Regions from separate parts of the Homo sapiens genome. Here regions 1, 2, 3 and 4 are each linked to region 5. Evidence: fine-mapped expression QTL. A gene starts in region 5. Each other region holds a variant in brackets. All regions are shown on one strand. Distances are between the middles of the regions. Region 1 has its middle 20 kb from the start of TBC1D2. Region 2 overlaps TBC1D2 (TBC1 domain family member 2). Region 3 overlaps CORO2A (coronin 2A). Region 4 holds the start of MIR6854 (microRNA 6854). Region 5 holds the start of TBC1D2 (TBC1 domain family member 2).

Evidence for each region. PIP is the estimated chance that this variant, and not a neighbour inherited with it, causes the effect. A credible set is the group of variants that fine-mapping cannot tell apart.
Region 1: its variant is the best candidate, but not a certain one, in a credible set for the expression of TBC1D2 in whole blood (TOPMed, PIP 0.78).
Region 2: its variant is the best candidate, but not a certain one, in a credible set for the expression of TBC1D2 in monocytes after Pam3CSK4 (Quach 2016, PIP 0.53).
Region 3: its variant is the best candidate, but not a certain one, in a credible set for the expression of TBC1D2 in whole blood (INTERVAL, PIP 0.81).
Region 4: its variant is the best candidate, but not a certain one, in a credible set for the expression of TBC1D2 in whole blood (TOPMed, PIP 0.63).

What each region holds. Positions count from the first base shown.
Region 1 is chr9:98,272,982-98,279,174 of GRCh38, reverse strand. No RefSeq gene overlaps it. Among named protein-coding and RNA genes, the nearest start is that of TBC1D2, 20 kb to the right of the region's middle. RefSeq lists enhancers at 3,688-4,220, 4,221-4,755, 4,788-5,321. The variant G/T (reference allele first, on the strand shown) is at 3,467.
Region 2 is chr9:98,211,450-98,217,642 of GRCh38, reverse strand. TBC1D2 (TBC1 domain family member 2) reads left to right here. Exons shown (of 13, transcript NM_001267571.2): 7 at 4,425-4,535. Among named protein-coding and RNA genes, the nearest start is that of MIR6854, 15 kb to the left of the region's middle. The variant G/T (reference allele first, on the strand shown) is at 4,061.
Region 3 is chr9:98,124,726-98,130,918 of GRCh38, reverse strand. CORO2A (coronin 2A) reads left to right here. Exons shown (of 12, transcript NM_052820.4): 8 at 1,029-1,125; 9 at 2,200-2,312; 10 at 2,659-2,749; 11 at 4,096-4,370; 12 at 6,014-6,193. The coding sequence ends at 6,145. Among named protein-coding and RNA genes, the nearest start is that of TRIM14, 8.6 kb to the right of the region's middle. The variant C/T (reference allele first, on the strand shown) is at 3,435.
Region 4 is chr9:98,228,001-98,234,193 of GRCh38, reverse strand. It overlaps TBC1D2 (TBC1 domain family member 2), which reads left to right. Exons shown (of 13, transcript NM_001267571.2): 4 at 645-778; 5 at 5,046-5,242. It overlaps MIR6854 (microRNA 6854), which reads left to right and starts at 4,977; the gene lies at 4,977-5,045. The variant G/AG (reference allele first, on the strand shown) is at 3,454.
Region 5 is chr9:98,252,747-98,258,939 of GRCh38, reverse strand. It overlaps TBC1D2 (TBC1 domain family member 2), which reads left to right and starts at 3,291. Exons shown (of 13, transcript NM_001267571.2): 1 at 3,291-3,767. The coding sequence starts at 3,399. RefSeq lists an enhancer at 2,567-3,056 and a silencer at 3,227-3,276.

The DNA of each region.
Region 1 (6,193 bases), 20 kb before region 5:
AAGTTCCCCTCCCTCCATAAGATCGGGGGTAGCTTAAGTATTCCTCCAGACCCTTTCCCCTTCACCAAGTAAGGGACTGGCAATGCCTTTCATCTGAAAACTTCAGCGCCATTGAACTGCCCAATGCCCAGGCCAGTGTTGCTGGCAGGTCGAGAGAGGGCTGAGCGGAAGAGAGGAAGACTAGGGTAGCCAGTGGCATTCCCACAGGGTGGCTTGGCAAGGAGATGTGGGTTTTCCATGGGTTGTGTGGGCACTGAGGAAGGTTGGGAGAATTTCATCATCCTAAGAGGCTGAGGAAAAAAGTAGATGGATGAAGTTCAGTCAGAACTTGCTCACCAGAGGATTGTGTCAGAAGGACCCACTGGAAAGCCAGCACTCAGACACCTGCCTGGCAGAGGAACAGACAGCCAGATAGGAACAAAAGAAGTGATGCCAGCAGAAAGAAGACTGTAACCTCACGCAAGGAGTCACAGAAAGCAGTGTTCTGATACCTCTCCCCTCTCTTGCCTCCTTTCCCTGATATCTCAGAGAAAATAGAGAATGGGAGAGCAAACCTCATCACCTCCCTCCCTGCCCCAAGTCACAGAAACCTCAAGTGCCTGCCTGGGAAGAGTGCACTTTTTTTTTTTTTTTAAACATCCAGAGACTCTTTACTTTTTGTGGCTTTATTGAGATAGAATCCACATACCACACAATTCACCCTTGTAAAGGGTGCAATTCAGCCAGGCATGGTGGCTCACACCTATAATCCCAATGCTTTGGGAGGCCAAGACAGGAGGATCCCTTGAGCCCAGGAGTTTGAGACCAGCCTGGACAGCATAAGGGGACTCCATCTCTACACAAAATTTAAAAATTAGCCCGGCGTGGGGGATGCACGCCTGTAGTCCCAGCTACTCAGGAAGCTGAGGCAGGAGGATCACTTGAGCCCAGGAGTTTGAGGTTATAGTGAGCATGATTTTGCCACTACAACAGACTGAGATCCTAAAAAAATAAAATAAAATGAATTAAAGTATACAATTCAAATTTTTTAGTATATTCACAGATTCATACAATCATCTCCACAATCTAACTTTGGAACATTTTCATCACTCCAAGAAGAGTTAGCTGACAGTCCCTATTTCTCCCCAAGTTCCCCCAGCCTAAGCAACCACGAAATCTACTTTCTGTCTCTGTAAGTTTGGACATTTCACATAAATGGAACTTGCAATATGTGGTTCTTTGTGATGGGCTTCTTTTACTTAAGATAATGGGTTCAAAATTCATGTGTTATCAATATGAATGCAAGATAATGCATTCATATTGCAGCATGGATCAGGACTGCCTCAACTTTTATTGCCGAATATAGTCTATAGTATGTGTATACATTTTACTTTATGCAATTATTATCCATGTTATCAGTTAGCAAACATTTGAGTTGTTTCTACTTTTGGACTATTATGAATAATGATATTATGAACACTCAAGTTTTTGTGTGGACATAATGTCTTTGTTTTTCTTGGGGATATAACTAGGAGTGGAATTGCTGGGTTGTATGGTAACTCTAGTTTTAACTGTTTGAGGAACTGCCAGATTTTTCCACTGCAGCTACAACATTTTACATTCTCATCAGCATGTATGAGGGTTCCAATTTCTCCTTATGCTTACCAACATTTGTTATTATCTATTTTTAAAAAAAAATTCATAGCCATCCTGGTAGATGTGAAGTATCTCATTGTGGTTTTCGTTTGCATTTCCCTGATGGCTAAAGATATTGAGCATCTTTTCATGTACTTATTGGCCATTGACATATCTTCTTTGCAAAAATGTCTGTTCAGAGCCTTTGCCTTTTATTTATTTATTTCTGGAACGGGGCCTCACTTTGTCGCCCAGGCTGGAATGCAGTGGTGTGATAACAACGGCTCACTGCACCCTAGAATTCCTGGGGCTTAAAGGAATCCTCCCACTTCAAATTCCCGAGTAGCTAGGACTGCAAGCGCAAGCCACCACTCCCTAATTTTTTTAGTTTTGTAGAGACAGAGCCTCCCTATGTTGCCCAGCTAGTCTCCAATTCCTGGGTTCCAAGCAATCCTCCCACCTCAGCCTCCCAACGTGCTGGGATTATAGGCATGAGCCACTGCACCCGGCGCCATTTTTAAGTTGAATAATTTGAATTCTTCCTATTGAGATGTAAGAGTTTGTTATGTATTCTAGATACAAGTTTCTTATTTGATCCACGATTTGCAAATATTTTCTTCCATTCAATGGGTTATCTTTTCATGTTATTGAGGGTGTTCTTTAAAGCATAAAAGTTTTTAATTTTGATGAAGTCTTACTTTTTTCTTTTATTGCTTATGCTTTTGCTGTCATATCTAAGCTCAAATCACAAATACTTCTGTTTTTCTTCTGAAAGTTTTTTAGTTTTAGCTCTTACATTTACAATCCATTTGAGTTAATTTTTGGGTAAGGTATGCGTAAGGAGTGCAACTTCATTCTTCTGCATGTGGGTAGCCAATTATCCTAGCACCATTAATTGAAAAGATAATTCTTTCCTCCACTGAATTGTCTTAGCATCCTTGTGGAAAATCAATTGACTATAAATGCAAGGGTTTATTTCTGGATTCTTAGTTCTATTCCATTGATCTAGATGTCTATCATTTTGTCCAGTGATTCTTAGTAACTGAACATGAAGGGAGAAGCCTGAGATATTATTAAGGGAAGCTACAAGTGGGAAAGAAGGTTCCACAGAGTCCAACTGGTCACTGGGAAAAAGTCCATCATTTCGCATTTGTGCCTCAAAGAGTTAAGACTCCTCCAACCACTTCTAGTGAAGGAACATTCCCAACCCGTATCATGTCTGCTTTTCCAAATGGGGTACATGGAATGATCCATTTCCCTTAGCTGCTATCATAAATGAGTGTTGCATTTTCATAAACTATTTTTCAGCACTGATTGTGATTATTCTCTTTTAATCTGTTAATCTGGTGAATTACATTATTAGATTTGCTAATAGTAGATATATTTGATGCTTACATTTCTAGGGTAAACCTAACTAGGTCATTTTTTATTTAATACATTACTAAAGTATGCCATTATTTTGTTTAGGATTTTTGCATCTAAAATCATGAATAAATTTGATGCTTTATTTTTTCTTTTTCATTCTGGCTTTGGAATCAAGGTCATCACTAGCCTCGTAAAATGATTTGAGGGGATGTTGCCTCTTTTTCTAATCTCTGAAAGGGTTTGTATAAAATTAGAATTGTCAGTTTGTTTGTTTTTAATTGAGATGGGGTCTCACTATGTTGCCCAAGTTGGTCTTGAACTCCTGGCCTCAAACGATCCTCCTGTCCCGGCTTCCCAAAATGCTGGGATTACAGGTGTGAGCCACCATGCCTGGCCTAGAGTTGTCAGTTCTTTGAACGTTTAGCAGAATTGTTTTGTAGGTTGATTTTAATCTACTAATTCAGTTTCTTCAACTGTTACAGATTTG[G/T]TTTTCTTTTTCTGTGCAAGTGAGTTTTATAAGTTTTATTTTCCTAGAAACATGTCTATTTCATGGAAGCTTTCAAACTATTAGCATAAAGTTGTTTGTAGTACTTATTTTTTTAATCTGTTGCATTTGTAATTATGTCCCTTTTTCATACGTTATATTGCTATGCATCCTTTTTCTGACTTAACTAAAGTTACAAGGTTGTATTTTATTCTTCTATTGAAAAAATACAAGTTTGGGTTTGGTTGAGCATCTCTACTGTGTTTTTCTATATGATTTCATTAATGTGTGCTCTTATCTTTATTATCTTCTTGTACTTTGTTTTCTTTGCTACTTAAATTATGGTCATTTGTTTGTGGGCATGACATCATTATCTATTAAAATATAAGTGGGTATGTTAGTCCATTCTGTCAGGCCTGTGCGCCCAAGCTAAGGCATCATATCCCCTGTGACCTGCACATATACATCCAGATGGCCTGAAGTAACTGAAGAATCACAAAAGAAGTGAAAATGGCCTGCTCCTGCCTTAACTGATGACATTACCTTGTGAAATTCCTTCTCCTGGCTCATCCTGGCTCAAAAGCTCCCCAACTGAGCACCTTGTGTCCCCCGCCCCTGCCCGCCAGAGAACAACCCCCTTTGACTGTAATTTCCACTACCTACCCAAATCCTATAAAACGGCCCCACCCCTATCTCCCTTCACTGACTCTCTTTTCGGACTCAGCCCGCCTGCACCCAGGTAATTAAAAAGCTTTATTGCTCACACAAAGCCTGTTTGGTGGTCTCTTCACACGGATGCGCGTGAAACATTCCTGCTGCTATAACAAAATATCTTAGACTGGGTAATTATGATTAACAAAAATTTATTCCCCACAGTTCTGGAGGCTGGGAAGTCAGTCCACTGATGAAGGCCCTTTCAGTGTCAAGGGAGGATTTGCCCTCTGCTTCCAAAATGGTGCCTTATTGGTGAGTCCTTACGTAGCAGATGGCAGAAGAACAAAAGGGACTGGGTGCCCTCTTCAACCTCTTCTGTAAGAGCGCTAATCCCATTCATGAGGGCAGTGTGCTCATGATTAATCACTTCCCCAAAGGCTCCATCTCTTAATACTATCACATTGGGTATTGTTTCCAATGTAATGAATTGCGGAGGGACACATACATTCAAATCATAGCAGTGGGCATTCTCTTAGGCCCAACGATTCCACTTTAGTTCTATATTCTATATTAATATTAGAAAATATCTAAAAAGATATATGTATAATGTTGGAGGTCAGTTGCAGTGACTTATGCCTGTAATCCCAGAACTTTAGGAGGCCGAGGGAGGAGGATTGCTTGAGTCCAGAAGTTCAAGACAAGACCAGCCTGGGCAACATAGTGAGACCTCGGCTATTTTTTTTTTTTTAAAGATGGGCTTTGCAACATTATTTATAACTAGAAACAATTAGAAATAACCTGAATGTGAAGATACAGTCATACTATGTGTCAGGCCTCTGAGCCCAAGCTAAGCCATCATATCCCCTGTGACCTGCACGTACACATCCAGATGGCCGGTTCCTGCCTTAACTGATGACATTCCACCACAAAAGAAGTGAAAATGGCCTATTCCTGCCTTAACTGATGACATTGTCTTGTGAAATTCCTTCTCCTGGCTCATCCTGGCTCAAAAGCTCCCCCACTGAGTACCTTGTGACCTCCACTCCTGCCCGCCAGAGTACAACCCCCCTTTGACTGTAATTTTACTTTACCTACCCAAATATTATAAAACGGCCCCACCCCATCTCCCTGCACTGACTCTTTTCGGACTCAGCCCGCCTGCACCCAGGTGAAATAAACAGCTTTATTGCTCACACAAAGCCTGTTTGGTGGTCTCTTCACACGGAAGCGAGTGAAACTATGGAATACCGTTCAGCTGTTAAAAGGAATAAGGCAAATCTAATATCTATTGACTTGAAAAGAGCTCCATGAGATAATATTAAGGGGGAGGGGGTGCAATGAAGAAAAATAGGTAAAGAATGACAATATTTTTGTTTTAAAAATTGCATATGGTCACATATTTATATCCCTATATGTAGTCCCACTGGATGCAGTCATAGCCATTTAGCCCTAAGGAGCCACTGCTAATTCCATCCAGAGGTAAGATCCTTCAAAGCTGGGGAAGCCTCATCTCCAAGCATATAGGTGCTCCCTACCTCCATAGACAGCCTCCAACCATAACCTCAGGGCATCACTTCCACCCCTTACAAGTCCTAAGACTGGTTTAGGTGAGAAGTTCTGAGAGGACAGGGTGGGGAGAGGGGTTGGGGGCTCTGCAGGCCTTGGGAACCATAATGACATTCCCAACCCACGTCTTCTCCCACCCTTTCAAGGTCATTGGTTGTGAGTTATTCATACTTCTCCCTTCCTCAGGGAGGCTTGATTCTGCCCAACCTTCCTTGTGCTCCCCAAAAGTGCCTGACACCCATTGCTGGCTTCCCAGACAGCCAATCTGATTGACTTCTTCCTCTTCCCGGGGGGGCTTCTGTATCTCTTTGTGGCCCTCAGAGTATCCGAGGTCCCAGGTTAAACACAAATGCAGCATCTGTAAAAAACCCCATGCGTCAGCTTGAAGCAAATGCCTTTCCCAGTAAAATTGTTCTACTTTTCCACATAGCTTTGCAAGAGTGATATTTTTCCTCTCCCCATTCCCTAATTACCCCAAAATATGTGCCAAAGGGGGAAGACGTGACTTGG
Region 2 (6,193 bases), 41 kb after region 5:
TGTCTTGAGTTTGAGGACAGAGAATGTTGAGGTTTCCTGCCTGCCCTGTGATTGAGGAACCCAACTTTAGGGAATGCCCCTTGTTATTCAGACTTTGGTTTTGAGAACAGGATCACTGACCTCTTGAATATCAGATCTGGAAAGACTCAGAAATCTAGTCTGCCCCACTCATTTTCTGGCAGGGACAGCTGAGCTGGGGCAAGGGAGAAGGACTGGCCCAGGGTCAGGCAGCAAGAGGCAGGGCTACAGCCGGAACCTGGCCTCCCATGCCCAGGCCACTGCCTTCCACACAGCACAGGGCCTAGTCCATGGGCATGGCCCAAAGAGAATTCCCGGGCTCCTGCTTCCCTGGTCCCCCTTCTCCAGGGTTTTCCTTCTTTCATTCCACTGGTGACTGTCCTGTGGCTTTTCTCTTTTCTGAGGTTTCTCTTTTTCCTCCCTACAGTTCTGAGCCAAGACGAGCACTCAAGGTAGGGCATCGAGCTGGAGGGGGAGGTACTGCCCGACGCCACCCACTGCCACTGCTGTTCCAGGCTGTGCTCACTCTGCCTCCCTGTCCGGCATGTCTGTGCCTTCCCTAGAGCTGGAAGCAGGGTATCTTATGTGACAAAAGCCTTCTTTCCAAAGCCTTAGAAATAACAGTGTGTAGCCAAGCGTGGTGGCTCACAATCCAGTGCTTTGAGAGGCCACGGTTGGAGGATTGCATGAGGCCAGGAGTTTGAGACCAGCCTAGGCAACATAATGAGACCTTTTTAAAAAATTAAAAATTAATTAGCTGGGTGTAGTGGCACACACTTGTAGTCCCAACTACTCAGGGGCCTGAGACAGGAGGATCACTTGAGCCCAGGAGGTCAAGAGTGCAGTGAGCTATGATCATGCCATTGCATTCCAGCCTGGGTGACAAAGTGAGACCCTTTCTCTAAAAATAAAAAAAGAAAGAAAAATAAATAAATATCCATGAGCACATCTAGGCCTGGGAGGAGGAAGGGGTGATATCAAGGAGGGAGACCCAGTGGTGTGGAGCAGTGGCCAGCGCCAGAGCTGGGTCTGCTTTCTCTACGCAGTGTCTGCTGAGCACCTGCCATGGGCTGAACACACCTGGGTTTGGATCCTGGCTCTCTTTCGTGACAAGGGGAACTTACTTTCTCTGTGTGTGTTTCCTCATCTGTTAAATGGGAATTAGGGCACTTTAATAGTTATCCCACAGCCTTGTGGATATGAGGGAGATGGGTCAGGTCATGGTAGGTCCTTTCCTCCCTTGCGGGGGGGCTTGTTGTATTTTCCCGGGCATTGGATTCCGAACTCTGTGAGCCGACTGAGGGGGTGGGTGCAGGGTGGGGAATAGTAGCTCTCGAGCTGTCATGCAAACTCAGTGAGGGAGACGATGCTCACGCTCACGTTGCACTTGCCACATGCCAGGCACCGTTCTGAGCCTTTTGCACATATTAACTCACTGAATCCTCTCCCAGCCACATGAGGTAGTACTGTTATTATCCTCATTTTCCAGATGAGAGGATGAGGTTAAGTAACTTGTCCAGGGGCTCAGTGGTCAAGACAGAATTTCCACCCAGACAGCGTGCCCGCAGCATTCATGCCACTGACCACCAGGCGGTGCCGGTACATGGCCAACTCCAGCGTCTTTGATGTGTTGTTATACTGTCTGATGGGTAGGAGAGGTCACATAAGCCTGCATGCGTGTAGCCAGGAGACACCAAAGGACAACGCTTGGAGGGTAGGGACTAGAGTGTGGGCATCCAGGTGGATTCCAGCTGGTGGGGAGCTCAGATGGTGCCCGGCAGGAAGTTTGGTGATTAGGGCTTTAGAATGAGACAGTCCTGGCCAGGCACAGTGGCTCATGCCTGTAATCCTAACACTTTAGGAGGCCGAGGTGGAAGGATTGCTTGAGGCCAGGAGTTTGAAAACAGCCTGGGAAACATAGTGAGACCTCGTCTCTACAAAATCAAAAAATTAGCTAGGCATGGTGGTGCCTGCCTATAGTCCCAGCTACTTGACAGGCTGAGGTGGGAGGATTGCTTGAGTCCAGGAGGTCGAGGCTGCCATGAGCTATGATCACGCCACTGTACTCCAGCTTGGGCGACAGAGCAAGACAAACAAACAAAAAGAATCAGACAGACCTGGGTTTGGTCACATCTGCCTTATACTGGCTGTGCCTTAGGCAAGTTGCCTACCCTTTCAGAGCCTCTGAGGCCTCATCTGTGTCATAGGAATAATAAAAGAACATCCCTTCTAGGGTTGCTAGGAGGATGAAGTGAGAGAATATATGCTGCGTGGTGTTGGTGATGGGGGTGATGCCGGAAGCCTGCACAGCCTCTGTATTCATAAGTTTCTATATCTCCAGACAGTAAAGTGTTAGACTCCAGAGAGAGTGGGGAGTGGTCCAGGAAAGGCCTGATGCTCATGGGAGACTGGTCCCTGTGCCACAAACAAGATTTTCACTTCTTGCCACATAAGGATAGGATATGGGGACTGTGGAGAAGAAGCAGGCAGAAACTTGCCAGCAGAGCGGCTGGCGCACACAGCAGCATTTTTGAGAGGCAGTGAAGCTGGTTTTTTATCTAGGTCAGGGACAGGATTGGATAGGGGGAGGAGGGTGGCGCCAGGGGTTGGAACTGCCTGGGTCCAGCCAGAAGGCAGAGAGCAAGCTGAGTGGATGCACAGCCTTTCAGCCTTGGCACAGCGAGGGAGATGAAAGCAGGGGTGGCCTGGGTTGGGGCACCACAGAGAGCCCCCGTGGAGTGGTGAGGGGTGATGTGATAAAGTCAACAGGGGGCATTCGTTCCCTCCCCTGGGAGCAGAGGCCCTTCTAGTGTGTCAGGCTCTGGGCGGAGGGCAGCAGCCCCTGGGCAGGCATCGGAGCTTCCAGCCTGGGGAGACCTTGGAGATCATCTTGGCCAGAGTGAAGACCCACCCAGGGAGGGCCAGGACCACCTGTGGGCTGTGCACATGTGACCCTGACGAGGATGTGCCCCAAACTACATGTGATGTTCTTCATTTCCAAATCAATCTGGCCACGTCGGAGTCATCCTTGCTGCAGCATCGCTTGCACATGTGATGTTCTTCATTTCCAAATCAACCTGGCCACGTCGGAGTCATCCTTGCTGCAGCATCGCTTGCACATGTGATGTTCTTCATTTCCAAATCAACCTGGCCACGTCGGAGTCATCCTTGCTGCAGCATCGCTTGCACATGTGATGTTCTTCATTTCCAAATCAACCTGGCCACGTCGGAGTCATCCTTGCTGCAGCATCGCTTGCACATGTGATGTTCTTCATTTCCAAATCAACCTGGCCACGTCGGAGTCATCCTTGCTGCAGCATCGCTTGCACATGTGATGTTCTTCATTTCCAAATCAATCTGGCCACGTCGGAGTCATCCTTGCTGCAGCATCGCTTGCACATGTGATGTTCTTCATTTCCAAATCAACCTGGCCATGTCGGAGTCATCCTTGCTGCAGCATCGCTTGCACTCACCTCCAGCCCATACATCAATGGGAGAGAAAGGGCCTGAGTTTCAGCCAGTAAATACCCTGGAATTGTGAGGTATAGCTCTAAGAATGTGTTACGTGACTGAACGGCTTCTGTAATGTCCATCCCAGCAGAATTGAGAGCCACTGCTATAGCTGATCCTTCTCTGAGGCTCAGGTCCTTGCTTGAACCTTCCCAGTGCTTGTCTGGCTTCTCCTTGTATGCCCCAGCAGCAGGGAGCTCATTCCCTCCACTGGATGGGCAACTTGCAAAAGGAAAACTCAGAGATGTTTATCACAGCATTATTCATAATCAAAAACCAACTGCAAACACCCCAGGTTCAAATTAAAAAATGACAGGAAAAGGATTATGAGTAAGTTCTGGTAAATTCACCCAATAGAATCATCACCAGAGGTTAAAAATGATCACTGGGAAGCTTATGTAGCAACATTGAAAGGTTTTACAAAGTGACACTGAGTTAATTTTACAGTATGATTGTAAATATATGATAAAATATGTTGATTTTAAAAACAAACACTACTTGAGCACTTGCTATGTTTTGGTCCCTGTACTTA[G/T]TGTTGTCACACATTATCTCACTTAGTTTCCCAACTGCCCAGTAGGTTAGTTGGTATTTGCCCCTTTTACAGATGAGGAAACAGAGGGTCAGAGTGGTTCAGTGGCCTGCCTGAGGCCTTCCAGCCAGAACATCAGCCAGGACTTAAATTCAGACCTACTGGTCCCTTTACCACATCATGCTGACATCAAGAATAGAGAAGGGTGCTATGAGTATTTTATTTTTCTTTCAGACTTCCTCTTCTGTTGCCATTATTGGAAATTTCTAAGGAAAAGAAGCTTTGGGGGCTCATTTGAGGGTGTGACTCCCCAGGACCAGGGAGATGTTTATGTCCAACTGATAACATATTTTACTCTCTTCTCCAGGATGACATGGAAGCTTACCGGACCCAGAACTGCTTCCTCAACTCCGAGATCCACCAGGTCACAAAGATCTGGAGAAAGGTGGCTGAGAAGGAGAAGGCCCTTCTGACGAAGGTGCGGGGTGGGGCCCTATTCCAGCCGTCTCCATCCCTGGCCCCTCTGCTGGTCCCCATGCTGCCCACTCCGTCTCACTCTCCTCATTTCCTGTCTGCCCCTCTCCCTCTGAACTGACCCCTTGTGAGCAGGGCCCATATCAGGTTCTTCTCCAGACCCCTGTGGTCGGGGGATTGAGTCATTTGTTCCGCAGCGTTCACTGAGTAGCTGTGGGGTAGGGACATCAAGACCAATAAGGCTGGTTCCTGCCTACAAGGAGGGTATAGACTAGTGAGGGAGTGTAACCCAATCAAGATGTACTTGGGGCCAGGCGTGGTGGCTCACACCTGTAATCCCAGCACTTTAGGAGGCCGAGGCGGGTGGATCACAAGGTCAGGAGATTGAGACCATCCTGGCCAACACGGTGAAACCCCATCTCTACTAAATATACAAAAAAAAATTAGCCGGGCATGGTGGCGGGCGCCTGCAGTCCCGGCCACCCGGGAGGCTGAGGCAGGAGAATGGCGTGAACCTGGGAGGCGGAGCTTGCAGTGAGCCGAGATTGCGCCACTGCACTCCAGCCTGGGCAACAGAGCAAGACTCTGTCTCAAAAAAAAAAAAAGATGCACTTGGACTTGTGGGATTCTTGGGGGCCCAAAGGGAGGAAGGAAAGTCAGGGAGGGCTTCCTGGAGGAGGTACCTTCTGAATTGAGTCCTAAGGATGAGTTAATGTTATCCAGGCAAGCAGTGGAGAAGGACCTTCCAGGAAAAGAGACAGCATAGTAAAGACGTGTGGTCTGAGAGGTGGGGGGCAGGGCTAGGGAGAGTGAGACATGAGGCTGGAGTTGAGGAGTTTGGAATTTACTCCAAGGAAACTGGGGAGCTGAAGGATTCTGAGTGGAGAAGTCCTCAATCAGACTTCTGTTCCTGTTCCAAGAAGACTGCTGTGACTGCTCAGGAGGGTGGGCTTGAGAAGGTGGGCCTGGAAGTAGGGAGATTGTTTGGAATCAGCAGCAGAAATCCCTGAGAAGGGGCCAGGTGCGGTGGCACAGGCCTGTAATCCCAGCGCTTTGGGAGGCCGAGGCAGGTGGATCCCTTGGGGCTAGAGTTCAAGACCAGCCTGGGCAACATGGTGAAGCCCCGCCTCTACCAAAAATACAAAAATTAGCTGGGCGTGGTGGTGCACACCTGTAATCCCAGCTACTCAGGAGGCTGAGGCACGAGAATCATTTGAACCCCGGAGGTAGAGGTTGCAGTGAGCCAAGATCATGCCACTGCACTCCAGCTTGGATGACAGAGCGAGACTCTCTCAGGAAAAAAAAAAAAAAGGAATCCCTGAAACAGGTGTTAACGATGGGACTCAGGAAGCAGCCCAGGCAACAGAGGTGGGCACCAGGTGGGATAGGTAGAAGAACAGGCACAGAGGATGGCTTGGAGCTGGTGCCCGGCAAGTGTTTGGAGATGGCGACCGGGCAAGGGTGCAACAGAATTGTTCCCCTGCTGCCACCCCAGGATGAGATAGGATTCGGGGTGGCCCAGAGATCATGGCAGTGCTATGAGTGGATTTTCACTGTCCCCATCTCACAAAAATGGAAAACAAGGAACTTGCCTGACTTGCCTAGCACCACCCAGCTTGTATAAATGTAAACACAAAAGTTCAAGGTGAGGTAGGGTTGGGG
Region 3 (6,193 bases), 130 kb after region 5:
CCCTGAGACAGCGGCAGACAGCAGCCTGGGGCCATTGGGAACACAGGGCAGGGATGGGCAGGCCTCGCTGGCCACTCTTTCCCTGTGAGAAGGAACCCCTCCCACCCTCCTGGCTCCCTAGGAACACCTGGAGCCAGGGCTCTGGCTGGACACCTTGACCTTGTCTCTTCCCAACTCCAGGCCCAGATGTGGGGGGACCATTGGTGTTTCTCAGCAGGGGCACCTGCTAAACTGGGGGCAGAACAGGTCTCCACTGGGTAGGACTATCCCATGTCTGGCAGCCCTGGCCCCTGCCCACCAGTGCCAAGAACAGCATCTCTCCCCCTCCATCCAAGTCATTATGACAACCAGAAATGTTCCCCATGGTAAGACCTTCTGGATGACCTCTGAGGCCACCCCAGTTCTGACTTTTGCTGCTGCTCTCAGATAGGAGCGGGATTTGGACTTGTCTTCCCAGAGCTTCTGTCTTAGAGGAAAAAGGGTGGGCTTTGGGTCATGGTGGGGGAGGATTGAATATTAAAATAAGGGCCCAGGCCCAGCACAGTGGCTCATGCCTATAATTCCAGCACTTTGGGAGGCCAAGGTGGGAGAATCACTTGAGCCCAGGAGTTCAAGGCCAGCCTGGGCAGCATAGTGAGACCCCATGTCTACGAAAATGAAAAAATAAAAAATTAGCCAGGCGTGGTGGCACACACCTGTGGTCCCACCTACTCGGGAGGCTGAGGCGGGAAGATGGCTTGAGACCAGGAGGTTGCAATGAGCTGTGATTGCACTACTGCTCTCCAGCCTGGGCAATAAAGTGAGACCCTGTCTCAAAAAAATAAGATAAAATCTAAAATAAAATGAATATCCCCTCATCACCCTCCTGCCTTGATGACAGGGCCCCCAGTTTCCTGGTGTTCCCTTGAGTGAGATGGGTTTGCCGATCATCAAAAAAAGCCAGGTCTTTGCTGCATGGCTGGGTTGCTGATGAGCTGATGAGCTCCAGCTCTGAATCTCACCCTCCTCTTCCTTCTCCTCCTCCTCAGGGAGATGGCAACATCCGCTACTACGAGGTGAGCGCCGACAAGCCTCACCTGAGCTACCTGACTGAGTACCGCTCCTATAACCCACAGAAGGGGATCGGTAAGTGAGGGACACTGAAGTTCATGCCTGTAATCCCAGCACTTCGGGAGGCCGAGGTGGGAGAATCAGGGTCAGGGCTTCAGTGCGGGGTCTGGGGAGACAGGGATGAGTCAGATGGGAGGAGAGACAGCATAGCAACACTCTGACTTGGTGGGGGCTGTACTTGACGTGTGCAACAGCACAAAGGAGGAAGTCAGGGAAGGCTTCTCAGAGGAGGCAACATTGGAGGAACTGAAAGAGGAAGCAGAGCCCAGCAGGGGAGAGAGGGATGTGTTCTAGGTCAAGGTTAAGCAGTTACCACAAGAGCAGAGATGGAAAGGGCTGACCTAGAAGAGCCTCTAGGAAGCAGTCCTCAGTTCCTTTCTAAGTGTGCTTGAGGATTAAAAACACAGCTATATTTCTGTAATCTACAAGAAACCCACTTTAAACATAAAGACATGGCTAGATTAAAAGTAAGGGACTGGAGAAAGATGCACCCTGCTAACCCTACTCAAAAGGAATCTGGAGCGGTTTGATTAAGAGCATTTGGGTCACAGGAGCTGTGGGGATGGAGATGGGGAACCTTAAGCAGAGCAAACTGCCTATAAAAGTTCAGCTAATCCAGCACTTTGGGAGGCCAAAGCTGGAGGATCACTTGAGCCTAGGAATTCGAGCCTAGCCTGGGCAACAAAGTGAGACTCCTGTCTCTACAAATAAATAAAAAAATTGAGGTGCATACCTGTGGTCCCAGCTACTTGGGACGCTAAGGCAGGAGGATCGCTTGAGCCCAGGAGTGTGAGACTGCGGTGAGCTATGATTGTGCCACTGCACTCCAGCCTGGGCAACAGAGTGAGACCTTGTGTCAAAAAGAAAAAAATTCAGCTAAAATAATTTAAATCTTTGAAGGTGAAGAGTCTGATTAATTCAACTCCATTTCCCAACATAGGGCCCAGCCCAGTGTCGGTATTTGTCCCTGAGCTGTTTTCTGGGAGGAGACTGGTCTCTGTTCAGGTCCAGGTGTGCAGCCTGGCTTTGGCCCTAACACTGTGGCCCCAGCCTAGCCAGAACCTCTTGGCCCTCCCTGTCTGCCTTCAGGTGTCATGCCAAAGAGAGGACTCGACGTGTCCTCCTGCGAGATCTTCCGCTTCTACAAGCTGATCACAACCAAAAGCCTCATCGAGCCCATCTCCATGATTGTGCCCCGGCGGGTAAGGGCAGTCGGGACCGCATGGGAGGCAGGTGGGGAACCTGTCCTGGAGAAGACAGACCCAGGGCTGTCGGGCACCAGAGCCTGGAGCCCACGTTCATGGGGCAGCCACAGAGCGGCCTTTCTCACAGCCAGTGTGACATCAGTGGGCGTCAGGAGTCCTGGGTCTCGGTCCACCTCTGTTCTTGAGCTGCTGCGTGACCTCGGGCAAGTCCCTTTGTTCTCTGGGCCTCAGTTTCCTCAATTCAGCAGGGGTTGGTGAGAGCCTGGACTCCCAGGTCTAAGGGCCTTTCCCATCTGAGCAGCCTACCCTACCACCCTCCTCACTGTCTGGATTTCTCCTGCAGTCAGAATCCTACCAAGAGGACATATACCCTCCAACAGCAGGGGCCCAGCCCTCCCTGACGGCCCAGGAGTGGCTCAGCGGGATGAATCGAGGTGAGGAAGGCAGAGAAGAGGCCCAGGCAAATGTGACAGGAACATGGCGTGCCCAGTGGCCCCAAGCAATTGAGAGGGGTTGGGCCTGGATTTTTCTTCTCTCATGACCTCAGAAGCCATGCCCTTGACCTTCAGTCCCCAGTGGGTAGCATGGTCACATACAGGTCCAGAAAGTCAGGGGGCTTGACCCAAGAGCTCAGAAAACTCCAACTCAAGGGACTTTGCCCCACGGAAAGCTTCTTTACACTCTGGGGCTATGTGGGGTGCCTGGACCACCTCAGCCAGACTCCCTGTCCCTGTTCCCCACCCCTACCTCTGCAATTCTTTTTTTTTTTTTTTTTTTTTTTTTTTTGAGACAGAGTCTCGCTTTGTTGCCCAGGCTGGAGTGCAGTGGTACAATCTCAGCTCACTGCAACCTCCACCCCACCCCCAGGTTCAAGTGATTCTCATGCCTCAGCCTCCTGAGTAGCTGGGACTACAGGCACGTGCCACCATGCCCAGCTAATTTTTCGTATTTTTAGTAGAGATGGGGGTTTTGCCATGTTGGCCAGGCTGGTCTCAAACTCTTGACCTCAAGTGATCCACCTGCCTCGGCCTCCCGAAGTGCTGGGATTACAGGTGCGAGCCACTGGGCCTGGCCTTTTGCAATTCTTCTTGACCCAAGAAGCCCTCCAGGCAGCAACCC[C/T]CACCCAGGTCCCTCTGCCCACTCTGCCTGTCCTGAGCCACTCTCCCGCTCCTGCCAACACGGGGGCCAGCCCAGCAGAAGCAGTCACCCCAGCTGCTCCCTCTCCCTTCCACCCCCACAAACTTCCTTCACCCCCACCCCAGTGGCTGAGCGGGCCTCCTGGTGTACTGGAAGAGCCTCTGCCTTGGGGGGCAGCGGACCAGGGCCGAGTCCTAGTTTTGGATAACCTTAAGTAGGTTTTGCTCCCTGGGCCTCAGTTTCCTCATCTGTAGCCATGATGCCAGCCTCCCCTGCTTTCTGGAGGTGGTGAGAGAACTAATGAACTTGGTAGATGGTGGGGTGCAGTGTGGGTGGGACTGTCCTTACAAAGCAAGGGCAAGGTCTCATGTGAGTTTGAAGTGTTTGGGGGCTGCTTCAGTGCACGCACCGTGCTGTTCCTACAAACCAAGCTTCACTCTGAGGGTGGCACACGTGGGTATTTGTATCTGTTAGCCCTGCTCTGTGGGTTTGGGCCTGTCCACAGGTAGCTGTATTTCCCACACATGTTGCATGGGTCTGCATGGCTCTGAGTGTCTCTGCATGCCTGCCTGTGTCATTGGTGCCCCATATGCCCATCTTCCCGTGGGCACCCCGTCCTCACATGGCTCTGCTTCCCTTCCAGACCCAATCCTGGTGTCCCTTAGGCCTGGCTCTGAGCTGCTGAGACCCCACCCACTGCCTGCAGAGAGACCTATCTTCAATTCCATGGCCCCAGCCTCACCCCGGCTCTTGAATCAGACAGAAAAGCTGGCTGCAGAAGATGGCTGGAGGTCTTCCTCCCTGTTGGAGGAGAAGATGCCAAGGTGGGCAGCAGAACACAGGCTGGAGGAGAAGAAAACCTGGCTGACAAATGGCTTTGACGTTTTCGAATGCCCCCCACCAAAGACAGAGAATGAGGTGTGAAGGAGGACGGGGTGGGCCTTTCACATGGGGCAGCTGGGGTGGAGGGGAACAGATCCAGGCTGAGAAGAAGGGAGAAAATGAGGCATGAGAAGAATAACCAGCTGTGTGGCCTGGCCTAGTCACTTGACTCATTTTGTTAATTCATTCAACAAACAGGCAGTGAGCTCCATCTTATGCCAAAATGATGGGCATACATAAAGATGGTGGGAGGCTGGGCACAGTGGCTCACTCTTGTAATCCCAGCACTTTGGGAGGCCAAGGCGGGCAGATCATGAGGTCAGGAGTTCAAGACCAGCATGGCCAACATAGTGAAACCCCATCTCTACTAAAAATACAAAAATTAGCCGGGTGTGGTGGCGTACACCTGTAGTCCCAGCTACTTGAGAGGTTGAGGCAGGAGAATGGCTTGAAATTGGGAGGTGGAGGTTGCAGTGAGCCAAGATCACACCACTGCACTCCAGCCTGGGCAACAGAGCAAGACTCCATCTTAAAAAAAAAAAAAAAAAAAGATGGTGGGGACCAGGTGACCAGGTGCAGTGGCTCACACCTGTAATCCCAGCACTTTGGTAGGCCAAGGCGGGTGGATCTCTTGAGGCCAGAAGTTTGAGACCAGCCTGGCCAACATGGCGAAACCCCGTCTCTACTAAAAATACAAAAATTAGCTGGGTATGGTGGTGCGTGCCTGTAGTCCCAGCTACTCTGGAGGCTGAGGCAGGAGAATTGCTTGAACCCAGGAGGCAGAGGCTGCAGTGAGCCAGGATCACACCACTGCGCTCCAGCCTGGGCAACAGAGTGAGACTCTGTCTCAAAAAAAAAAAAAAAAAAAAAAAAAATGGTGGGAAACCATCTGTAAAATGGAGAGGGTTTGACCTAGTGGGTATCAAAGTCTTTCCAGTTCTGACATTATAGGACTTTCTGTGCTTTCAAAGTCCACATTTGTTTAGTGCCTACTGTGTGGCAGATCCTGGGGTAGGCACTTTGATACAGCACGTGATTGAATTCTCTCAACAGCCCTGGAAGTCAGTCTGTAGTGGCTAAGAACACAGAGGCTGGCATCTCACAGATGGATTCTGATCCTGGCTCTGCTGAGTACTAATTTAGGGTCTTAGACCCAGAGACTGAATGTCTCTAAGCTTCCGTTTCCACGGTGGTACGGTGGGGACACTAGCACTGCCACCCTTATAGGGGTGTCACAACGTTCCAGTGGGATAACGAGGCCCTTAGGGCATCACTCAATATCTAACACCCATTCTGCACAGAGGGCAGTTTTCTGACCCCATTTTCCAGAGGAAGGAATGGAAGCTCAGAGTGGGTAAGTAACTTGCCCAAGGTCACACAGTTCAGTGGTGGCGAAAACACCAATCCCCAGACTTCAGAGCCAGGCATCCTTTCCTCTATTTCATGGAGGATCTATGGAAGCAAAATACATCTGAAACATTCCAGTCTTCTTGAATTTCATTTATTGGGTGAAGTAAACAAGGTGTTTGTAAAAGATCTATGCAGTGACAGCCCCATCAGGCCTCAGCCATGTTAATGTGACCGCCTCCACCTTTCTGAGTCAAAGAGGGATAGTGGTTTAGCTTTCAGCTGGTGTCCTGACACCATGGTGATCCTGCCTTCCGATCTTTCTTCCCCAGTTGCTGCAGATGTTCTACCGGCAACAGGAGGAGATCCGAAGGCTCCGGGAGCTGTTGACCCAGCGAGAGGTCCAGGCCAAACAGTTGGAACTGGAGATCAAAAACTTGCGGATGGGCTCAGAGCAGCTCTGAGCAGAGACCTCTGCCCTCCTCACCCTCAGGGACACCACTCGGCTCCAT
Region 4 (6,193 bases), 25 kb after region 5:
GCTTCAGCCTAGACAAGTACTTGGCCAAAGGGTGACCCCGCTGCGAAGTACACTAAGCCCCTTGGAGGCCATGAGATGGTCAGTGAAGGCTGCACAGAGGACAGATCTGAGCAGGGAAAGAGAGCAAGCAGGGAAAGATGCCAGGAGATGTTTGCAACTTATCTCAGCAGAAGTCGGGAGCCACTGATGGTTTTTGAGCCAGATAGTTATGAAACCAGATGAAGGTTTCGGGAAAGTTGGTTCAGCAAGTCCATTCAGCATTCACTCAACACACCCATATTAAGCACCTTCTATGTTTTGGGCACCGTTTAGGCATTGTAGGTGCATCAGTTAACAAAACGGACAATACCTCCGCCTCATGGCATTTATATTCCAGCTGCAGGGGTGGGGGTTAAGGAAGTCAAGCTTGTATTACTTATAAGCCACATAGTGTGTGGAAGATGAGAATGCGAAAGAGATAGGTAAAGGAGATTGGGAGTGCCATGCATGGGGAGGCATCATGTAGGGTGCCTGGAGTCTGGGAGACCAGTCAGGATGACAGGGTGTGGGGATGAGACCTGAGCTCCAGCAGTGGTGGCGGGAAGGACAGAAGGGCAGAAAGGCAGGGTTCAGCCTCATGCTCCTCTGTTCTTGTCTCCTTTCAGGAACACAATGCACAACATCCGTGGCAACAAGCAGGCCCAGGGAACAGGCCATGAACCTCCAGGGGAAGATTCTCCACAGAGTGGGGAGCCTCAGAGGGAGGAGCAGCCCTTGGCCTCTGACGCCAGCACCCCAGGTGAGCCTCTGTCCAGGGCTGAGCTGCCTTCAGGGACCAGCTCCTCACGGCTGGCACAAGTGCCTTCTTTCCTTCCAGCGAACCAGCATTTGTGCTTTTGTGTGTGTCTTAGTTGGCTTGGGCTACTTACTGAAACACCATAGACTGCGTGGCTTAAATAACAGATACTTATTTCTCACAGTTGTGTGGAAGCTGGGAGGTCCAAGATCAAGGTGCCGGCAGATTCAATGTGTGGTGAGGGCTCCCTTCCTGGCTTGCAGATAGATGGCCACCTTCTCACTGTGTGTTCACGTGGCCGAAAGAGCTCTGGTCTCTGCTGCTTATTCTAAGGGTACTGATCTTATCAGGGGCTCCACCCTCATGACATTAAATCTGATCACCTCCCAAGGGCCCCACCTGTTAATACCACCACGCTACTAAAAATACAAAAGTTAGCTGGGCATGGTGGCCAGTGCCTACAATTCCAGCTACTCAGGAGGCTGAGGCAGGAGAACCACTTGAACCTGGGAGGCAGAGGTTGTAGTGAGTCGAGATTGCACCACAGCACTCCAGCCTGGGTGACAGAGTGAGACTCCGTCTCAAACAAAACCAAAAACAAATGTACACATGTGATAAAATGGCATAGACCTATACACACATATTGTACCAACACCAGTTTCCTAGAGTTGATAGTGTACTATAGCTATGTAAGATGTCACCATCAGGGGAAGCTTGGTGAAGAGTACTTGGGACATGTCTGCACTATCTTTGCAACTTCCTGTGAGTCTATAATTTTTTCAGAGTAAAAAATTAAGAAGAGGCTGGGCATGGTGGCTCACGCTTGTAATCCCAGCACTTTGGGAGGCCAAGGCTGGAGGATTGCTTGAGCCCAGGAGTTCAAGACAAGCCTGGGCAACACAGGGAGACCCTGTCTTTACAAAAAAATAAAAAAATTAGCTGATCATGGTGCAAGCCTGTAGTCCCAGCTACTTGGGATGCTCAGCTGGGAGGATCACTTGAGCCAGGGAGGTCGAGGCTGCAGTGAGCCGTGATCATGCATGGGTGACAGAGTGAGACACTGTCAAAAAAAAAAACAGAAAAAGAGAAAGAAGAAAAGAAAAAGCACCCTTTGGAGCAGTCAGTGCCTGGCAGAGCCCTAGAGAGCACAACAAGCAGTCCAAGAGAAGGCCAGTGCTATATCGGATGAGTCACCATCATCATAACACTAGCAGTTACTTCATGCCAGTGCGGCAGTAAGCATTTTTTTTGGCAACAACTTTATTAAGATATATTCATGTACTATACAATTCACCCATTTAAAATGTGTAATTCAGTGGCTTTCTGTATATCCTCAGAATTATGCAGCCGTCACTATAATCAATTTTAGAACATTTTTATTACCCCAAAAAGAAACCTGCACCCTTAGTCATCAACCTTAATCCCCACTGCCCCATAACCCTAGGTGGCCACTCATCTTTCTTTCTCTATGGCTGTGCCTGTTCTCGACATCTGCTGTGAGTGGAATATACCAAGGAATATACCATGCTGTGACTGGCTTCTTTGACTTAGTAGAATCTTTTCAAGTTTCATCTGTGTGTACCAAGCACTTTACCTACCTTGACCTATTTAATTCTTACAGCAACTGGAACTGTATATATTGTATATATTGTTGTTATCCTCATTAGATTAATAAGGAAACTGAGGCATGGAAGGGTGGAGTGACTTGCTCACGGCCACAGAGTGAGTGACAGAACAAAATCTAATATATAAAGCAGATAAATCCACCATAAGTTGAAAATATCATAAGTTGAAAATGCATTTAATATACTTAACCTATTGAACAGTATAGTTTTGCCCAGTCTATCTTAACCATGCTTGGAACACATACATTTGGGCAAAATCATCTAACACAAAACCTATTTTCTAATAAAGTGTTGAATATCTCAACACTGTGTTAAACTGTGTTAAACGGTGTTTACACTGTGTTAAACAGTGGTTGTAATCAGATTTTTAAATGGAGGAAAAGATTATTTTTATGTCAATAAATCTTTTCTAATATGTACAAATGAGTTTCTTGAACACTAATAAAAAACACCTAAATTCTTTTTGAGACTCTAAATGAGCTACAAATTAAAAAAAAAAAAAAAAAAAAAAAAAGCAGAGTTGAGGCTGGAGTTGGAGTCTGGACTCCTCCTCTGCTCCTCTTACTCCACCTTCCTCTCCCAGTCAGCCCTTGAGGCACTCCTATGAAATCCAGGGCACTGATTGAACACCACTGTCTTAGGCCTTATTTTCTCTAATTATAAACTGGGCACTGTGAGGCCTGCCCTGCCTGTCCTCAGAGTTGGTGCACAGTCATGTATCAGAGGGCAGCAGTGCTACAAGGAGCTTCCCTGCTCCCCTATACCCCATTACAGGAAGGAGAAAGAGGTAGTACATATTTCTGAGCTCTGCAGGCTGCCTTGTACCCAGTGTAACCTGATTTCTCTTCGATCTGGAACAAGACTGTTCTGGTTTTGCACTCAGCAAGGCACTGTTGTTTTGTTCGTTTGTTTTGAGTCAGAGTCTCGCTCTGTTGCCCAGGCTAAAGCGCACTGGCATGATCTCGGCTCACTACAACCTCTGCCTCCCGGGTTCAAGTGATTTCTGGCTAATTTTTGTATTTTTAGTAGAAACGGGGTTTCACCATGTTGGCC[G/AG]GGTGGTCTCGAACTCCTGACTTCAAGTGATCTACCCGCCTCAGCCTCCCAAAGTCCTAGGATTACAGGCGTGAGCCACCACGCCCGGCCGAGCAAGGTACTGTTTTTGCACTCAGTGTCTGGTTCCTGTCACCTACTGGAGTAACTCTTTATTTGTTCAAGACTGTTTGGCCAGCCCTTGGCCTGGTCTCATGCTAAGTCATTTGGCCTATCCCCAAAGCCCTGCGTGTCCCCTATCCTGGGATGCCATACCACATTCTTATTTTCAACACCTTTAACACTTTAGTCCCAAGAAATAGGTAATAGTTTACTAAAATGCATACTCCTGCAAATGAGTAATTTGGTTAGGAGATTTAGATAAGATCAATTTACGATCCTACAAAATATCTGAGAGTAGGCAGTAAATGTGGCTGTAAGCTCAGCAGCCAAGGCAAAGAGGGAAATGCAAGCAGCTAGATTATTTCCAGTGTCCATAAGACTAAAAACATATTTTCTTATAAGAAGCAAAGCTTTTCTTGGAAGTTCCTAGGGCTGAAGGGAATTTCTTCTGCTGGGGACTCATAATAGGCATGATGTATATATCCCATGTGAACAAGCTTCTCAAGGGCCCTTGGCTACATAGTCAGGCCCTTAAATGTCCCTTGATGCAGGCTGATGGCAGAGACCAGAAGCACAGCTGGGTCAGGGCAGGACAAGGCAACACAAGGGAATGATTCTCTGATGTTTGGTTTGATTTAAGAATAAAATTTTGATGACTTAAAAACAGTGGGTGGCAAACATTTTTTGTAAAGAGCAAGATAGTAACGATTCGAGGCTTTGTGGGCCATAGGGTTTCTGTTTTAAGCACTCAGTTCTGCCTTTGAGGAGTAAAAGCAGCAATAGACAGCACATAAACAAATGGGCATGGCCGTGTTCTAATAAAGCTTTATTTGTAAAAGCAGGCTGTGGGCTGGATTTGGCCTGTGAACCATAGGTTGTAACCCAGGAGATAAAAGGACTATGCATCCTTGAGACAATCAACTGTGGGGGAAATATATCTCTTAACTTAGCTTGGAATAAGAAGAATCAAGTTAAATGCTTGAGCTGCTCTCTGGAGCAAGAATGCAGAGTACAGACATTCATTTTGTGTTCCTATCATCAGACAGATCTGTGTGCTTTGAAAATCTCCTAGTACATAGAGGTGGGATCCTGAAATAAGGAACAGAACATCCTGCCAGGGCTTGTGCCTGAGGAGAAAGCCACTTGGCAAACACCAGCAGGGTGGCATGAGATAGACCAATGCAGGCTGGGTGGGATCTGAAGGAAGGAGACAGGCACAGTTTAGCAGATGGGCCAGCACAGTGCAATAACGTTTATGTAGGCCAGTGGTTCTCACAGTCTAACCCCTGGACAAGCTGTGTCAGCATCACCTAGGAACTTTTTAGAAGTGCATATTCTCAAGCCCTGCCCCAGACCTATTAAATCCAGAGCTCCGAAATTAGGGCCCAACCATCCGCATTTTAACAAGCCCTCCAGGTGCTTCTAAAGCAAGCTCAGGTTTGAGAACTGCTGATGTCATCAGTCATAACTTCTGCGTTTCTCCTCTTGAGCAGGGAGAGAGCCAGAGGATTCTCCAAAGCCTGCACCCAAGCCTTCTCTGACCATCAGTTTCGCTCAGAAAGCCAAGCGCCAGAACAACACCTTCCCATTCTTTTCTGAAGGAATCACACGGAACCGAACTGCCCAGGAGAAAGTGGCAGCCTTGGAGCAACAGGTTCTGATGCTCACCAAGGAGTTAAAGTCTCAGAAGGTGAGGTCTGGTCCCAGGGAGGCCCCAGGTTCCAGTGGACCCCTCCAGTTCCTGGAGCCTTTCGGATAAGCTAGATGGGACGCATTAGCCGTGCTGGGCACCAGCTACTCTCTGGTCTTTAAAGGCCAAACTGCAGAATGTTGAAATATGCTGTTGATTACTCAAGAACCTGATGTCACTCAAAGTAAGTCACAAAAGGGCACCAAGGGCAGGTATCTCTGGAGATCTACTCTAATAACTGTCTCTTGGACCCCTCCTGGAGGGCCATGCATGGTCTCACCCCCTACCCAGAAAATGACATTATTTAGAGGCAGGTGATCTGGATGCAGGGTCATGGGAGGGGCTGTCGATAGAACTGGGGGGAACTTTGACCTGGCAGCCGATATCTGGGCACAGATATCTGAATGACCGTCACAAGACTGTCACAGGAGAAAGCAAACAAGCAGCATGTGTGTGGCCCAGGGCTAAGCCAGGACCAACACAGAAACAGTGAAAGGAATATTTGGGCTTAATATGGTAAGAAGTTAATTACGAGAGTTACAAGAGCTATATAATAATTGTAGAAAACAGATCTCATACACACAGACATTAAAACTACTCCAAAATCCTACATCCCAGAGAGTAAATGGTATTAAAAGCCAGGGGCTACCTTATGAAGTAGTGAGGGTCCCAGGGCAAAGATGTGAGAGGGCTGCAGCTCCGGGCGGGAGCCCCTCTTTAGAGTGATAAAAGCGACTAAGTTAGGCAGTTGTTACATAAATCCCAACGGTGGGGCCTGGTAGGACCTGTGGTGGCAGTGGCGGGCTCCAGTGAGGGCCCAGACTCCTTTTCCTCTAGAGGAAGGCCTAAGCTTTTGTGTTTGAACTTTGGCTGCCCGGAGGCCCTTTCTGCTTTGTTTTCCAGCCCTGACTCCAGAGGACTTAGGCTGGGGAGGTGGGGCTTATGCCCTAT
Region 5 (6,193 bases):
AGTCTCGCTCTGTTGCCCAGGCTGGAGTGCAGTGGCACGATCTTGGCTTACTGCAAGCTCCGTCCCTGGGTTCACGCCATTCTCCTGCCTCAGCCTCCCGAGTAGCTGGGAATATAGGCGCCCACCACTACGCCCGGCTAATTTTTTGTATATTTAGTAGAGACGGGGTTTCACCATGTTAGCCAGGATGGTCTCGATTTCCTGACCTCGTGATCCACCCACCTCGGCCTCCCAAAGTGCTGGGATTACAGGCGTGAGCAACCGCACCCGGCCTTGTCAATAGTTTTGTACCAATGTTAGATGTTTATTTTTGCCAAACATACCAGGATTAAGCAAAATGTTAACATTAGGGGAAACTGGGTGTAGGGTCTACAGAAATTCTCCCATTGTCTCTGTAACTTTTTCTAAAACTATTCAAAAATAAAAAGTTTTTTTAAAGCCTATCGAGGCCAGGCATGGTGGCTCACACCTGTGATCCTAGCACTTTGGGAGGCTGAAGTGGATGGATCACTTGAGGTCAGGAATTCAAGACCAGCCTGGCCAACATGGTGAAACCCCATCGCTACTGAAAATACAAAAATTAGCTGAGCATGGTGCCCTGCCTGTGGTCCCAGCTACTAGGGAGGCTGAGGCAGGAGAATAGCTTAAACCCAGGAGGCAGAGGTTGCAGTGAGCCGATACCGCTCCAGTGCACTCCAGCCTGGGTGACAGAGCAAGACTCTGTCTCAAAAAAAAAAAAAAAAAAAAAGCCTATCGAGAGTTTGATTGAAAATGTATTAACTGTATGGATTAATTTGAGGAATGTGACATCTTTACAATATTAACTCTTCCCACTCAGGGACATATTTGGTTTGTCTTATATCCTACTATAAAGCAATAAGGTATTCATTATGTAAGTCATTTATGTAAGGGATGTTGTCCATTATATTTTCCATTTGTTTGCTGCTGGAGACATCTATACACATATGCACAGTTTTTTAAAACAGGCCACCACTTGAGTTTTTCTGGTATACGTAATATATTTATAATTATTCTTTCAAATATTTATCATTGCCTAGCTACAAAACCTAGAACAAATAAGGTATGCTGTTTGTTTTATTAAGAGGTTTTAAAAATCAGGAATGGGGCCAGGCACTGTGGCTCATGCCTGTAATCCCAGCACTTTGGGAGGCCAAGGCCGGTGGATCACAAGGTCAGGAGATCCAGACCATCCTAGCCAACATGGTGAAACCCCGTCTCAACTAAAAATACAAAAATTAGCTGGGTATGGTGACGCGTGTATGTAATCCCAGCTACTCGGGAGGCTGAGGCAGGAGAATGGGAATTGGAGAGCATGCCACTGCACTCCAGCTTGGGCGACAGAGCGAGACTCTGTATCAAAAAAAAAAAAAAAAAAAAAAATTAAAAAAAAAGAAAAGAAAAGAAACTGGCTGGGTGCGGTGGCAGGAGAATCGCTTGAATCCGGGAGGCGGAGGTCACGGTGAGCCGAGATCGCGCCATTGCACTCCAGCCTGCGCAACAAGAGCGAAACTCTGTCTCGAAAAGAAAAGAAATATTTTGTCCCACATTCTGTACTAAGAGCTTCACACATATTATTTTATTTAATTATCAAAACAACTCTAAGGGTAGACAGGTGTAGATCCAGGTTTTGTGGGGACTGGAATTAAACAGCATTAAGGGCCTTCTGATTTTTAAAAAATTACAAAATTATGAACACAAAATTAGGTATGACGATGGTTATTTAGAATGAGAAAATAAATTGTAAATTATAACAAATGAAGAGCTCTCTGGCATTTAGGAGAAATGCTCCCTGGTTGCAACTCCCCACCTGTTAGACTACAAATCCCAGCGACCCATGCAAGTGAACATAAATTTCATTAGCTTCACCGTAAAGTTGTCTGGCGGCGGGTCGGGGGTGGGTAGGAAGAAGTGTTATCTCCATTTTTAGGTTGAGCAAATCACTCAGTATTGCAGAGTGGGAATCTGAAAATTATGCAAATAGACTCTAGAGCCCTCGCCTTTACCCCCACCCTGCTTCTTGTCAATATCACTGAGTGTGCATGAGGGTCTCGTTAACGACGGCTGAGGGGGAGACGATGAAGTAAGAGGAAAGGCTGAACAAAGGGCAAGAGAAAGGCAGAAAGAAGCTCCTAAAGAAAGCTGGACGCAATTGGGCTCCGCAACCCTAATGGAGAAATGCGCCTTAGGAGGGAAGGGGAGAAGTTTAAGGGGAAACAGGTAAAATGAGGCAGAAGTTGAGCAAGTTAGTCAAACCCTAAATTCTTTTACTTATTTACAAAACAGCCTGGCGCGGTGGCTCTCGCCTGTAATTCCAGCACTTTAGGAGGCCGAGGCAGGAGAATCGCTTGAGGCCAGGAGTTCAAGACCCCCCTCTCTGCAAAAAACAATTTAAAAATTAGCCGGGTGTGGTGGTGCGCAGTTGCGGTCTCAGCTACTCGGGAGACTGAGGCGGGAGGATGGCTTGAGACCGGGAGGCGGAGACTGCAGTGAGCTCTGATCGCGCCACTGCACTCCAGCCTGGGTGACAGAGCCAGACCGTCTCTAAAAATAATAATAGCAATAACAAAATAAAAATAAATGTACTGCACCCAACTATGACCCAGGAGTGGCATGGGTTTCCGCAGCGCAGCGGCCGCGCCTGGGCGCCCCAAGCAACACAACCAGCGCTGTCAGGAGGCGAATAGGAGCCAGGACAGAGAGCTGGGGAGGCCACTGCTGTCAGGCGAGGGATAAGAAGGCCGTCCGCGGCGTCACTGACGGGGCTGAAGGAACACCAGGAGAAGAGTGGCAGACAGCTCCGGAGCCGCGCTGCCCGGGCGACGCCGGAAGATGGGCCTCCCAGCGGTCTTCCTTTCAGCCAATGGCCGCGAGATGCGCCGTCCGAGGGTGCCCCGCGCGGCACAGGGAGGGAACAAGCAGCCCATCGGGTGCAAGAAAGCACTATCTTTCTAGGTGACTATGCGAACTACCAGGGAAGTGTAGCTAGGGACAGGCTTCTCTGCCCGCGGTTAACCTAACTCAGTGCCACCACGCCTTTAACCTGAAGCCAGGGAGCACGGCTGCCCTCAGTAAAGATGGCTGACTGGCGCGGAGAAAAAGCCGGAAGCAGCTGGGCTTTGCAGGGAGCCGACTGAGCGCTGCGGGGGCGTGGCCTGGCGGTGGAGGGGCGTGGCCAGCCGCCGTAACCTGGGTTTGCGATCTTTGAGGCGCGCGCACCGCACCCGGTCCCGACTCTGTGGCTTCCTGGGGGCGGGTTCGCCGTCGGCCCCGCCCCCGCCCAGGTGTCTCCCTTTGGGAAGCTGCCCGCCGAGTCTCCGAGATTTGTCCCTGGTGGTCCCGCGGACCCCTCGTCCCTCCGCAGTCTCCGGCTGGCAGCGATGGAGGGCGCTGGGGAGAACGCCCCGGAGTCCAGCTCCTCTGCCCCTGGGTCCGAAGAGTCTGCCAGGGATCCACAGGTGCCGCCTCCGGAGGAAGAATCGGGGGACTGCGCCCGGTCCCTGGAGGCGGTCCCCAAGAAACTCTGTGGGTATTTAAGTAAGTTCGGCGGCAAAGGGCCCATCCGGGGCTGGAAATCCCGCTGGTTCTTCTACGACGAAAGGAAATGTCAGCTGTATTACTCGCGGACCGCTCAGGATGCCAATCCCTTGGACAGCATCGACCTCTCCAGTGCAGTGTTTGACTGTAAGGCGGACGCTGAGGAGGGGATCTTCGAAATCAAGACTCCCAGCCGGGTTATTACCCTGAAGGTAAATTCCTGCAACGACTTTCTCCTTTCCAGCGGCGTGAGGTCCCCTTTTCGCAGGGCAAGGCTGGGCGCGAGTGTGAGGTGGACACAGTAAATTTGGAGTGTCGGTGACGACAGTTCCAAGAACTTTGTGCTTTGCAAAGTGCATTCCCACCCATTTCCTCATTGGGTTCCCACAAGGCAGGGAAGACAGACCCATTTTACGGATCAAGAAACTGAGTCAGAGGGAGATGAAAGGACTGGCTCGAGGTCCATGCGTCTAGAGAGTAGGGTAGCTTGGAATCCCATAGTCTTTCTACCTCTCAGTGCTGAATCAAAACTTTTACTTTTGGGTGTGCCTGACAGTGCAGTTACCTTAACTTTCTTACCTGGGACCTAAGTAAGTCAAAATATGGTCTTTGCAATCCTCTCTCAAGGCCAGGATTCTGATTCCCGTTTCTTGATATTTTGGCCAAGGTCAGTGAATGCTGAGAAGAGACTGGCAGGGATTAGGAAAATAAACACTTAGGTTTCACTGATCAGCCTAGATTGTTCATCTAGGCATGCTTAAACCTGTTTTCCTATCAGCAGCAAGGGGTAGGTTTTATCATCATGTGTAACTGAGAAAGCCTAAAGCAGTAGAAAGGCCACATTCTTTGAAATCAGACGGGCTTGGATTCAAATTGTACATTTGCTACTTACTAGCTGTGTGACCCTGGACAAGTTACTTAACCTCTCAGAACCTAGGTGGTTTGTAAGCATTTGACACATCACAGGCATGTACAAATTGTTGAATTAATTGCATCACCTAGAATACAGCCTGGTACCTAGTGGAGTACTTAATAATTTTTTGTTGCATAAGCACACATGCACACACAAGGTGATGGAACCAAGGTCAGAGTGCTAATGTCAAGAGGAGGTGTCCCATAACTTAATTGGAAAGACAGATCTGGGCTAAGTGTTCTATGGGCATCAGAGAAGAATGTGCCAGGAGATAGCCTTCCCCACCCCATCCCCATCTGTCCACCCCTCCAACCCCAACTCCAGCTAAGTGGGTATCTGTGGATGCCCACGTGTTCAGTTCTCCTTTACTGACTGGACTTGGCGGGTGACCAGGCTGGGGGACTTGGTTAAAATAATGAAACTCAGGAATCCCTGGCCAGGGAAGGCATTTTCGAGGTCATGTGGTTCCCGGGTCTATGTGTCTCTTCCACAGGTTGACTGCTGTATGCAGGGTCTTCAACACATGGTCTTTATAATAGTATTCCATTGTTCCTGGCTCTGCGCTTGGCGGGGTGTGGAGCTAATGCACCCCCACCCCTGGTTCTCTGACAGCTTAAAGTCTGGTGGGAGAGACTGAGGGAGAACCTGCATGCACCCTGAAATGTTCTGTAGAGACATGTGATAAGTCTGTGCAAGAAGGTGTGGTGACAGGAGGAGTCAGTTCCACCAAGTGGAAGGGGCTAGCCAGAAAGGCATCTGGAGGAGGGACACACCCAAGGCTTGAAAGAAGAAATAGGTGGCAAGCAGACAAGAGGGAGAAAGGTATTCCAGGCCAAGAGAGCACCGTGAGCAAATTAGGAAACCATGATACAGCCCTGAGTGTCCAGGCAAATCACATGAGCCAGAAAAACAGAGGGGCCCAAAGGATGGAGTTGAAGAGCAGAGGCCCGAGGGTGGGGAATTGGCAAATTAGGCCAAGTAGCAAAAGCTCAGTCTGACTATTGGATAGAGAAGAAACTAGGGGAAGGGCAAGGCTGGTACTCAGGGAGCCCATCAGAAGGTGATCAGAAGAGAGTGACAGCTGAACTAGAGCTGTGGCTGTGGGGAAGGGGACAATGGAGGTGTCTCGGGATAGTAGGGAAATAGAATGAGGGAGATGTCAGGAGTGGCTGGAGTAACTGGCTGACTGCCTGGTTGGGTCAGTCACTGACAGGAGGGAACTCAGGATGAGGAGCCCATGGAACATCCAGGTACATGTCCCCTGCAGGAGACTCTCAAGTTCCAAGGGGACAGGGACCATGTGTGTTGGCTCACCCCTGTATTCAGTGCCTAGCACTATCTCTGACACATATGTCAATGCTCAGTATACCCTTGTCAAATGAGTTAATAAAATGGGGTATTTGGGTTCGGCTGGAGCTCATCAGCATTAAGGTCATGGGGAAGACCTGGGAGGTGCTGCAGTCTCTCTGAGAGAGTGTATGGAAAGAGAACACTGGTGGGCATCATTTATCTTATTGATACCTGTGTGACAGCCTGAGGGTCACTTTCACAGACTCCCCCCTGCATAGTGCACACCAGTGAACCCCTGAGATAGGGAGTTTGCCTCTGTTGCCATGTAGCCCGCTGTTGTTCTCATGTGGCCTTGATTGCAGGCAGCTCTCTGAGAATCCCCATCCACGCCCGGTGAGCTGTTCATCTTCTGCAGTCCACCTCAGCTGATCTCAG